Regions from separate parts of the Homo sapiens genome. Here region 2 is linked to region 1. Evidence: fine-mapped QTL for protein levels in blood plasma. Region 1 holds a variant in brackets. A gene starts in the other region. All regions are shown on their reverse strands. Region 1 holds the start of SYN2 (synapsin II). Region 2 holds the start of GAL (galanin and GMAP prepropeptide).

What was found. PIP is the posterior inclusion probability: the model's chance that the variant is causal. Protein levels are from antibody-based Olink assays in UK Biobank. Linkage for the fine-mapping came from a reference panel and not from the study's own genotypes, which makes the PIPs less certain.
Region 2: it holds the start of GAL, and the variant in region 1 is fine-mapped to the plasma level of the GAL protein (UK Biobank, PIP above 0.99).

Annotation. Positions count from the first base shown.
Region 1 is chr3:12,002,027-12,007,397 of GRCh38, reverse strand. SYN2 (synapsin II) reads right to left here and starts at 3,010. Exons shown (of 13, transcript NM_133625.6): 1 at 2,470-3,010. The coding sequence starts at 2,846. RefSeq lists an enhancer at 1,811-2,311. The variant G/A (reference allele first, on the strand shown) is at 2,452.
Region 2 is chr11:68,679,397-68,684,767 of GRCh38, reverse strand. GAL (galanin and GMAP prepropeptide) reads right to left here and starts at 224. Exons shown (of 6, transcript NM_015973.5): 1 at 36-224. The region is part of intron 2 of LOC107984343 (a long non-coding RNA gene); the gene reads left to right. RefSeq lists enhancers at 1-153, 830-1,505.

The DNA.
Region 1 (5,371 bases):
TAGGCCCATATTAGAAGAGCAATTCTGGGAACTGCTATTAAGCACAGAAACACAGGAGCAAAAAACTGTTGTCAAGAACTAGACTTGAACTGGGCTTATGAGTTTTAATAAATCAATGTTATTACTTCAGAGAAAATAGGAAAACAGTTGGGAGTCAGCCCACGGGAAAGTGGCTTCTATGACTTCCATCAGAGGCTTCTAGTCTCCAGGGCAAGGCAAATTCTCTAGTTTATGCCAAATAGGCTTCCTAGAGAATACTATCCAAAGAGAGTTTCAAATCTTAAGCTACAGAAGCATTTATAACTAAACAGAAATCTGCAGCAGCTTCATCATACCCATACAAATAAGTATCAGTACCTATCTATAGATACCTAACTGGCAATAAGACTCAAAACAAGTGCATTTAATAGGATAAGAAATCAGGACAAGGTACAGAAGGGTCAAATTCCTGCACAGAAAAATAAAGCACGAATGTCATTCTCATTTCTCCTCTTCCTTTTCTTGGCCTTTCTTCAAGATTCATCTTTTGTGAAGCTTTCTCCAATAACTCTGGCTCTCACTAACCACTCCATTTGTTGACTGCCTGAAACACTAGTCTCAACCAATAATTCTAGATTTCTTTTTAACTGTTTCATGTATCCACTTTGTGTCCCAATTTGAGTGAGTTCTCTTAAAAGGCCCCCACACTGCCTAGAGGGAGCTTGTTATTAATATTGCTAATAATAATAGTGAGGCAATATAACACAGTGGAATGAAAGCAGTGGAGTCAAACAGGCCTAAGTTCAAATCCTGCTTCTACCACTTGCTGGCTACATGATTGTAAACATATTACTTACCTTTCCTAAGCCTCAGTTTTGTGAAGAAAATGCAATGAGATATCATGCTGAGAGTACAGCATTTGGCATATAATGGATGCTCTGACTGAGCACCTTTACTAGCTTGGTTACCTTCCCTTCCTCCGTAATAAGCACTTGTTGATATGAACTGAGTCAGAGTAATTCTAAGGAGGGCTGCCAGTGGCACTATCATATGCATTACACTTTCCCCATTACCCTCTTCCATGTGCCTTTGTCATTTCCTGGCAAAAGTCCTTTCGGATTTTCTACTCTACTCTCTTGAAAAGGCCAACCACATAAGTCACCCAAAGGACTATTCAGAATGGTGACATTAGCAGCCAGCAGGAGGGCATCTCCACATCTGCATCTCATTTCCACCACACCCACACGCCAGCACTCCCTCCCTCTGGGTCTCCCAAAGAGAGAATGCTAGAGAGAGAAAGCAGTGAAGCAGCCAAAAGAGGAAATGGAGAGAAATAGCTCTGTGGTCTCTCTGTGCACCCCTCCTGGGAAGAACACTCAGGTCCAGTCTCCAACCTCAACCCCTATGAGAAAAAAAAAAAAACAAAACCCTTGCTCACATTCCTGGAGAAAAGGCACCCCCAGATTCTCGGCCTCTTCATTTCTCCAAGCCCTTCACCTATCAATTTCACCATCCCACCATTCCCTAGGTTAACTATAAAATAGAGCCGCTTTTAACTAATTTGTCTTCAGTGGACCTCATTCGTACTTTTACCAAGCAGCAGCCTTCACCATTCTAAGTTGGAAACATGCTACCTATCTCTTTAGAAGAAAAAAAAAATTATTGAAGTTTCCCATCTACTACATTAAGGCAGGTCTCCTTTTATTTGTACCCCTTTAATGATCCAGTATATTTTACCAAGGTCTTCATCTTTCAGCTAGAAAAAGCTACCATTCACTTCCACGCCCCGCCCCCCACCACGCACATTTCAGAAAAACAAGCAATCAAAAAAAAAAAAAAAAAATTCCACACGTCCCCTCCCTGCTGCACAAAATACAACAATTTTATTATTCATAAAGAGACTTCAGCCATGCTCCGGGGAACAAGCCCGTGTACACCTGGGCCACTACATGTGTGATTTCATCAACCTGATGTCAATACTTGATATCAGCCTTCATGGGTCCTGGTTAAAAAAAACCCACCACCACCTTCTCCCTCCAAAATACCAATTTCCATTCCAAATTCACTCCGTGCTTCATGAAGTTAAACCTTTTTTACTGGCCCTAAATGTTCCTTCGGCCTCCTGGGACTATTTCACTTCAGATTTTATGTGTCTAAGCTAACAAGTGTGTCCCCTCCTCTACCCCCAAAAAAACTATTTCCTAAGGGCCTTTCCTGTTGCATAAAGTAGCTCCTTCTTGTATGGGACCTGGGGGACCTGGGGCAATTGAGGGGTATTTTAGCTTTGGGTTCGCCTTTCCGGGCTGATGGATGCCCTCCCTCACCCCGCAAACGCGCGCGCGCTCAGCCCGCACCTCCTCCCAGCGGGACCTCGGGGACCCTCCTTTTTATTGGTCTGAAACGTTTCCTCGGCGACCTGGGACCGTCCTCTCCTGGCCTGCGGCTGCCGGCGGACCCCGACCCCCGAGGGCG[G/A]CGGCGCCCGGCACCTACCAGTCGGCGTGCGGCTCGTCGACCACCAGCAGCACCTTGGCCTTCCTGGCGGCTGCGGGCGCGGGAGCGGGCGCGTCCACCAGGCCAGCCGAGGCGGCCGTCTGCTTCACGGCTTGGGACAGCGAGCTGAAGAAGCTGCTGCCCACCGACGGCGTCGGCGCGGGCTGCGGCGCGGGCGCCGAGGCGGGCGGCGGCCTCCGCTCCGGGCCCGGCGAGGCGGTCGGGGGCGCCGCCGAGGCCGAGGCGGCGCCCGGACCGGGGGGCGGCGGCGGCGGCGGCTGCTGGGGCTCGGGCCGCTGCAGGTCGGTCATGTAGCCGTTGGGCAGGTTGGCGATGAAGCTGCTGTCCGACAGCCGGCGCCGCAGGAAGTTCATCATCTGGCTTAAAGGGCTGGGGGCGCGCGGGGCTACGGGGTCTGGTGGCGCGGAGGGAGAGCGAGGGCGGAAGGCGAGATTGAGGCGACTGAGGCGGCTGAGGCGGCGGCTTAGCCAGCAGAGACTCAGGCCCCGGCACCAGACCCCGCAGACAGCAGCGGCGGTCTGGGCCAGGCAACCCGCGCGGCGCGAGGCTCGCGGAGAGGGAGCGGGCGGGGCAGGGGCGGGGCCAGAGATAGCCCCCGCCCCGCGCCGCAGAGGCGGCCCCGCCCCGCTCACGGAGGGCACCTAGCCGCGCGTCTGGCGACTCTCGGGGCTTGCAGGAGGGGGCGACCCAGGCCTCCAGCAACCTGAGCGTGACTATGCGGGGAGGGCGTGGGAGCCAGGCCTTCTCCCCAGGGGAAGGAAAAGGAACCAGAGGCCCCACCATCTTTTTGGTTGGAGAGAAAAAGAGCCGTGTCCCAGCTGAAATGGAGGCGAAGGAAACCGACCCCACTCCTTTTGGAAGGATAAGAGGTGTCAGCCTCCCTATGCGGAGGTGAGAACGAAAGGAGTCATCCCAATCACGCGCGCACACACGCACACAAGCACGAACACCCTGTAGTGAGGAGGAAAAGAACCACCTCCTTTCCCAACGCTGGGGAGAAAGATGTCATCTCCCCAGCCCCCAGAAGAGGGGGAAGGGAATAATCCGCTGTTACTAACACACACACACACACACGCGCGCGCGCGCGCGCACACACACACACACACACACACACACACACACACACACCCTATGGTGAGACAAAAAAGAAATACCTCTTCTAGGGAGGAAGGCAGCCTCCTTACTCCAAGGCGAGGGAGAGGAAAGGGGAGAAACAGATCCTCTCTACTCTGTCATGGAAGGAGGGGTGGGGTGTGTTTTCACTCCTGCACTTCTAGGGACAACAACAGTATGTACTTCTCTCCCCCTCCTCACTGACCAGTGAGAGAAAACCAAGAGAAGACTGGAGACATGGTCTCCACCCCAAGAGGGATATCTAAGGATCCCCCAACCCCACCGTGTTTCTTTCCTAGCATGCATTGATGCATCCAGTGCTATACCAAGAAGGACATCTCTTCAAGATCTTTCTACTTGTTTTTTCCATTTTATTCGTTGCCTTGACCTCTGTGAAGACATTTCTGATGGCCACCTTCCCATGTGCACTCTCTAAATCTTGCGTGACTCTTGGACCTTTAGTTTTCATCTCTCATTAGATATACTTTCCCTTGTGTTGTAATGGAGCAGGACACAGCAGATAGGCTTTACAGCAGACTACCCCGGGTGATATGTGACCCTGGATCAATAACCCCTGTGAGCCTCTCTCCTTAGCTGATAAAAAGGAATAAGTAACCCTTTCCAGAGTTGTTACATGGAGTAAATGAGATCATGTATGTAAAGCATCTGGTACACAGCAGTAGGTATTCCAGTAGTGATGCCTGAATTCTTTTTTCAATTGGTTCTCAGTAAGTATGTACTGGGCTGAATGGAGTCAGGGAGTGGCTTGTCACTAATGTTGGTGGGCAGTTCTTGCTTCCTGTATCCCAGCTGGCACTCAACTCAGGGCCTAGAGATACACAATCCAGCTCTGAGCCGGTGCTATCAGAGAAGTCTCCAGTCAACTATAATAACACAGTGGTCTTCCTATCTACTACATGCTTGGCACAGTGGTAAGAGCTGGAAAGGCTGAAATGAATGGGAAGTGGCTCTTGTCTATTGCAAGTTCATGATCTATGTGGGCTGGGGGATGGAGGGAGGATAGACACAGGAACCACATAAGATGTGAGAAATGCTATCATACAGTTGGGCAAAGAGGGTTAGGAGGCCTAAGGAGGGAGGGACTCATTCTGCCTCTGAGACTTAGGAAGGCCTCTCAGAGGAGGTGACATTTGAGGTGGATCTTGAGGCAGCTATGTTTACCAGTAGAAAAGTGAAGAAGGCAGGCAGGCAGGCAGCCAGAGAAGGCATGGAGAAGGTATGTAAGTTGATGGTTCCTCCAGGAAGCCTTTCGTCAATCCTCCAGGGCGGGCTAAGTGTTCCATATCCTGTGCTTGGCTTTGTCATAGACCCCAAAGAAACTATCATACAATATTCTGGTGACTAGAATGTAAGCTTTTCTAGGACAGGATTATGTCTTAGTTATCTTTGGGCTTCACACCAAACACAGGACCTGGCATGTAATAAGGACTCAGTTGTTTGAGAATTGAACTGTAATCTTACCCAACTCGGTTTTTGTGTTTATTGGAGAATAAAACTGATAAGTCACTAATAACATAATTAAATAAACTTAATTATTGCCCTTCTTAAAAAAAAATTTTTTTTTTGAGATGGAGTTTCGCTCTTATTGCCCAGGCTGGAGTGCAATGGCACGATCTCAGCTCACCACAGCCTCCGCCTCCCGGGTTCAAGCATTTCTCCTGCCTCAGCCTCCTGAGTAGCTGGGATTACATGCATGCACCACCATGCCCAGCTAATTTTGTATTTTTAGTAGAGATGGGGTTTCTCC
Region 2 (5,371 bases), not on the chromosome of region 1:
CCGGGGGCGCAGGGTCGGCCCGGCGCCAGTAGTACCTTGAGCTGCGGCTGCGCCCGGGTTCGGAGCGTCGGGGTCCGGGTGCGGTGGCGGGTCTGGGCGGCAGGTCCGGGCGTCGGGCCGGGTCGGGTGGGCTCTGGCGGCCTGGGGCGCTCACCGCATGGCGCGGCCGGCAGCAGGGGCAGAAGGCGCGGGCCGGGTCCCTCCACGTGTCCGCCGCCCGGTGTGGCCGCCGCCACCGCCGCCGCTGCTATATATGCGGCGCACCCGGGAGCCGCCCGGAGTCGCGTCACCGGCTCAGCGCCCGCCTCCTGCACCCTCGCCGAGCCCCGAGGGCGACGGGAGTGACCCGAGCTCGGGTCCTCTGGGCCATCATAGGCGGGTGCGGCGGAGAGCCCCCCCTCATCCCGCGGGAGAGACTCCCCCAAATCTGCAGAGAGAACCCCAAACCCTGTGGGAGAGACCCTAATCCCGAAAGACAGAGCCCAATCGCCCCGCGGGAGAGCCCCCAGACCCGTGGCCCAAGTCATCGCTGTGGCGTCAACCCCACTGCTCCCCCCGGGGTCCCAGCCCCAGAGCAAGCCTGACCCCCCACAACGTCCCACGCCTGCGGTCTCCCTGCAGCTTCTCCTCCCAGCCCCTACCGCTGCAAAAGCCAGCTGAGCTCCGCAGCACTGGAGACCCCAGAGGGTGACGGGCAGGGACGACTCCTCAGTCCGAGCCAGCCCCAGCTGGGAGGTCATGGGGTACCCGGGGAATGGCGGGCAACACTTGGCCCTGCGCCCTGGCCGGCTTGTGCTGGGGCTGGAGCGAAGGTTCAGGCCTCGGGAGCCGTCGATGGCGGGGAGGGCAGGCGTTCCCGGCTCCCTGTGCCCAGCGACCTCCCTCCTGTTTCACTAAAGGGGGGCTGTGGATCTCAGGGTCTGCTTGGCCATCCCATTGTGGGAGCTGCGGGACCGTCGAGCATCCACAGGCACCAGCTCAGAAGCTCGGCCTCTCAGTGCCTCCCCTGGCTGCCTGGTCCAGTTGTAAGAGGGAGCTTTAAGCAGGTCCAGCCATTGGGCAACTGGTTAGGTCCAGAGGGAGAGCAGCCCAGACTCCCAGAGGCCGCCAAGGGGTGGGCGGTGGGCAGAGCAGCAGCAAGAGGCTGTCCTTGTGCCCAAGGCAAAGACATCCCACAGGAACAAGGCCCTCCTTGGCTCCTCCACAAACCCTTCCTGAGCTGGGGCCAAGTCCCGAAACAACCCAGGAGAGAACCCAAGCCTAGGCTGTTCCTTCACCCCATTCCCAGGCATCAGGGGAGCACAGGATCCCAGGCATCACACTTGTACAGTGTGGCACCTCCGGGCTTCCGAAGAGCACGGGGTCATCTGCTGAAAACTCGCCTGACCTCCCCTCCCACTGGCCAGACACCACCCAAGTCCTCAACAGCAGCAGCTGGGTTAGGATCTCCCCACCCACTGGGCTCAATATCAGATGGGTTGATGTCACATCTGTGGGTTGATGTCCACAGGGCACAGGACGAATGATGATCATGACAGTGTCATCTTACCTGTCCTCTACACTTTAGTCTTGGGAACCTTTGCACAGACAGCTACAGGCTGCCCCCAGGAGAGATCCGTCTGCCTCCACGTGGCTGGGGAAGGACAACTGGGCTTTCAAGAACTCTGGCGAAGGCCAGCGGCTGCTGGAGAAGGTGCAGGGCTGCAGCCTGGTGGCTGAGTGTCTGCTGTGGTTTATGGGAGGAAGAGGAGGAGACAGGACTTGGGGAGGGGTCTTAGGAACAGACTCCTGGCACGACAGTGGTGAGGGGTGGGGTGTTCCCAAGGGCACAGTTTGACTTCTGGTCATCCCTATTTCTTGCAGCCTGGGGAGAGGAGAGTCAGGCACAGGGGACCCTAACTAGGACTCACAGGCTGATTTCGGAGCCCACAGTAAACCCTGAAGTGGTTTCCTGCCGGGAGTGGGGGCGTGGGAGACAGTGAGTCGCCATGAGAGTCTGGGCCAGCCGTGGGCAGAAGGACAGCCGAGAGGCGGAGGAGCAGAGGGCACGTTCCTGTGACTCTGCAGAGAAGTGACAATGATGTCCTCTCATGCCCCATGTCCTTGTGTCTAGATGACATCAGGGAGTGGGCAGGGGCTGGGCTCATGGGTGCCTCTTGGCTACCTGAGAAATACTGCAACCTTTGGCCCCCGGTGGTAGTGGGAGCCCTGCTACCATCCCAGAGCTCTTTCTTGCTTTCTGCTGAGAACAAATCCAGCCCAGTGCATAGCACATCTTAGTCAATTCCAGCCTTCTCCTTTCTTCCACGTTAGGCCCCCTTCCAAATCCTGCCAGAGCTTGACTACACTTATTTTCTCTATTTACTTTGTCACAGAGGCTCTTAGTCTGTTTAAAGGAGCACAAACTCTAAACCTAAATCCTTGAGATGGATTCGAAAAGAGACTCAAAGTCCATCCCTTAGTCATGGGCTGGAATTTGAGGTACATTAAACTTTCAGCTGTCTTCATTTGGGCCTATGTACTCTTTTTGTTTCCTTTTTTGCTTTCAAAGAAACTTCAGACTGGGCGCAGTGGCTCACGCTTGTAATCCCAGCATTTTGGGAGGCTGAGGTGAGTAGATAGATCACTTGAGCCCTGGAGTCCAAGACCAGCTGGGGCAACATAGCAAGGCCTCATCTCTACTAAAAATAAATAAATAAATATTTTTTAAAAATCAGCCAAGCATGATGGCACGTGCCTGTAGTCCCAGCTACTCAGCTCAGGAGGCTGAGGTGGGAGGATCACCTGAGCCCAGGAGGTTGAGGCTACAGTGAGCCACGATCAAGCCTGCACTCCAGCATAGGCAACAGAGCAAGTCTCTGTCAAGAAAGAAAGAAGGAGGGAGGGAGGGAGAGAGAGAGAGAGAGAGAGAGAAGGGAAGAAGAAGAAAGAAGAAGAAGAAGGAGGAGGACGAGGAGGAGAAGGAGAAGAAGAAAAGAGAAGGAAGGAAAGTGAGGAAAGAGAAAGGAAAAAAAGAAAAATAAATTTCAGGCCGGGTGCGGTGGCTCATGCCTGTAATCCCAGCACTTTGGGAGGCCAAGGCGGGTGGATCACAAGGTCAGGAGATCGAGACCATCCTGGCTAACATGGTGAAACCCCGTCTCTACCAAAAATACAAAAAATTAGCCGGGAGTGGTGGCAGGCGCCTGTGGTCCCAGCTATTTGGGAGGCTGAGGCAGGAGAATGGCGTGAACCCAGGAGGCGGAGCTTGCAGTGAGCCTAGATCGTGCCACTGCACTCCAGCCTGGGTGACAGAGCGAGACTCCGTCTCGAAAAACAAAAAACAAAAAACAAACGAAAAAGAAATTTCAGGGTAGGTTATCTGGTCAGAGCCTCCTTATTAAAAAGACATTAAGCAACTGGAAACAAATCTTCACATGTATTTTGAATTCATTTAAGAAAGCTCCATTGAATAATTAGACACATGTATTCAAAATAAACATGCCCATGCCTGATTCCTCCAGGTCCCTAAGTTCTTTTTCCACGTGGGATGACACCCACCGTCTTGCTTCCCGCTTAGTCTGGGTGAGTGGGTCTCGGTATAAACCCTGGCTGGGACCCTGGCCCGGAAGTGCGGTGACCATGGGAAGGCTACAGACAAGCAAGGCAGTGGCCTGAAGGCGTGCTGGGGTTTCCTGAGGTCGGCAGATTCCTTCAGACAAATGAGGCCAGCACACCTGGGATGACAGACACCTGCCTCCCGGCACAGACTGTGCTGGAACCACAGCCAGTGTGCTAATGGCTCTTTGCTCAGTAATGACCCAATGGCAGTCATTGTCAACCTGTCATCTTGAAGACAGCCCAGTGTGCAGCAGACAAAGTGGGTCACCATTAGAGTAATCGAAATCAAGCAGAAAGCCTGATGTCCCCCGCTGCCTTCGAGCCAGCCCATCTTCCTTAGAAGCGCTGTCCACCACCAGGAAAAACCACCCTGAAGCTGAGAACTCAAGCAAGGGTCAAGGGTCACCTGGGCCATGCCCACTGCACGGGAGCTCAACCGTCCATTGCCTGGCAGTGGAGCTGCAGTGGTGAAATCAGCAGCAGGGTCCCTGCCCTTGCGGAGTTAGACCCTCACGGAGACCCATTACAGTTGGCCCCTCTGTATCTGTGAGTTCCCTGGCTGTGGGTTCAACCCACTATGGACTGGGTCCTTGTAGGTAGGCCTAGGATGGGTTTCTCTGTACGAATACGTACAGACTTTTTTCCTTGTCATTATTTCCTAAACAATACGGTATAACAACTATTCATGTAGCATTTACATTATACTCAGTATTATAAGTAATCTAGAGATGATTTAAAGCATGTGGGAGGGCCATCGCGGTGGCTTATGCCTGTAATCACAACACTTTGGGAGGCCGAGGCGGGCAGATCACTTGAGGTCAGGAGTTCGAGACCAGCCTGGCCAACATGCCAAAACCCTCTCTCTACTACATATACAAAAACTCAGCCAGATGTGGTGGCGGACATCTGTAATCCCAGCTACTCGGGACGCTGAGGCAGGAGAATCACTTGTACAACTGAACCCGGGAGGCAGAGGTTGCAGTGAGCCGAAACGGCGCCACTGCACTCCAGCATCTGGGTGACAGAGTGAGACTTCATCTCAAAAATAAAAAAGTTAAATTAAAAATAAAGCATATGGGAAGATGTGCGTAGGTTATATGCAAATACTATGCCATTTTATATAAGGGACTTGAGCATCCACGGATTTCGGTATTTGCGTGGCCAGGGGTTTCCTGGAACCAACCCACTGTGGACATGGAGGGCCAACTGTATGCAACAAATGGTTATTGTACAAATAACCACCCCATTGTCGTGGGAAGGAGATGCATGGATTAGGGGAGCTGAACCTGACAGGTGAGCAGGACTGACTGGGTACAGAATGAGGTCCAGCACACTCCAGGTGGAGGGGGTTACATGGGTACGCCCCCTTTTTGGTCCTTTTCCATTCCTTCTTCCTGCTGCCTGGAGTGTGGACGTGAAGGCTGGAGGTGGGCAACGAATTTGGACCATGAGGTGATGGCTTCAGGTGACACATCAAGGCCGAGGGAGCCTGGGTCCCAGTGACCCTGAGCCTGGTCCCTGGGCTGCACACTTCCAGGCTTGTTTCACAACAGAGGAGAAGAAGCATCTCTCTTATTTAAGCCAATGGCCCATAGAGGTTTTCCATCACGTGCGGTAGGAATTGTTCCAATCAGTTTCACAGTGGTCAACAAATGTTTGATGAATGAATGAATGAATGAATAAAAACACGTGAGAGGGTACACCACCTCCACCGCTGCTGAGAAGCTCATGTCTGCAAGACGGGCTCATCAGAGGGAGAGGTTTGGACGAT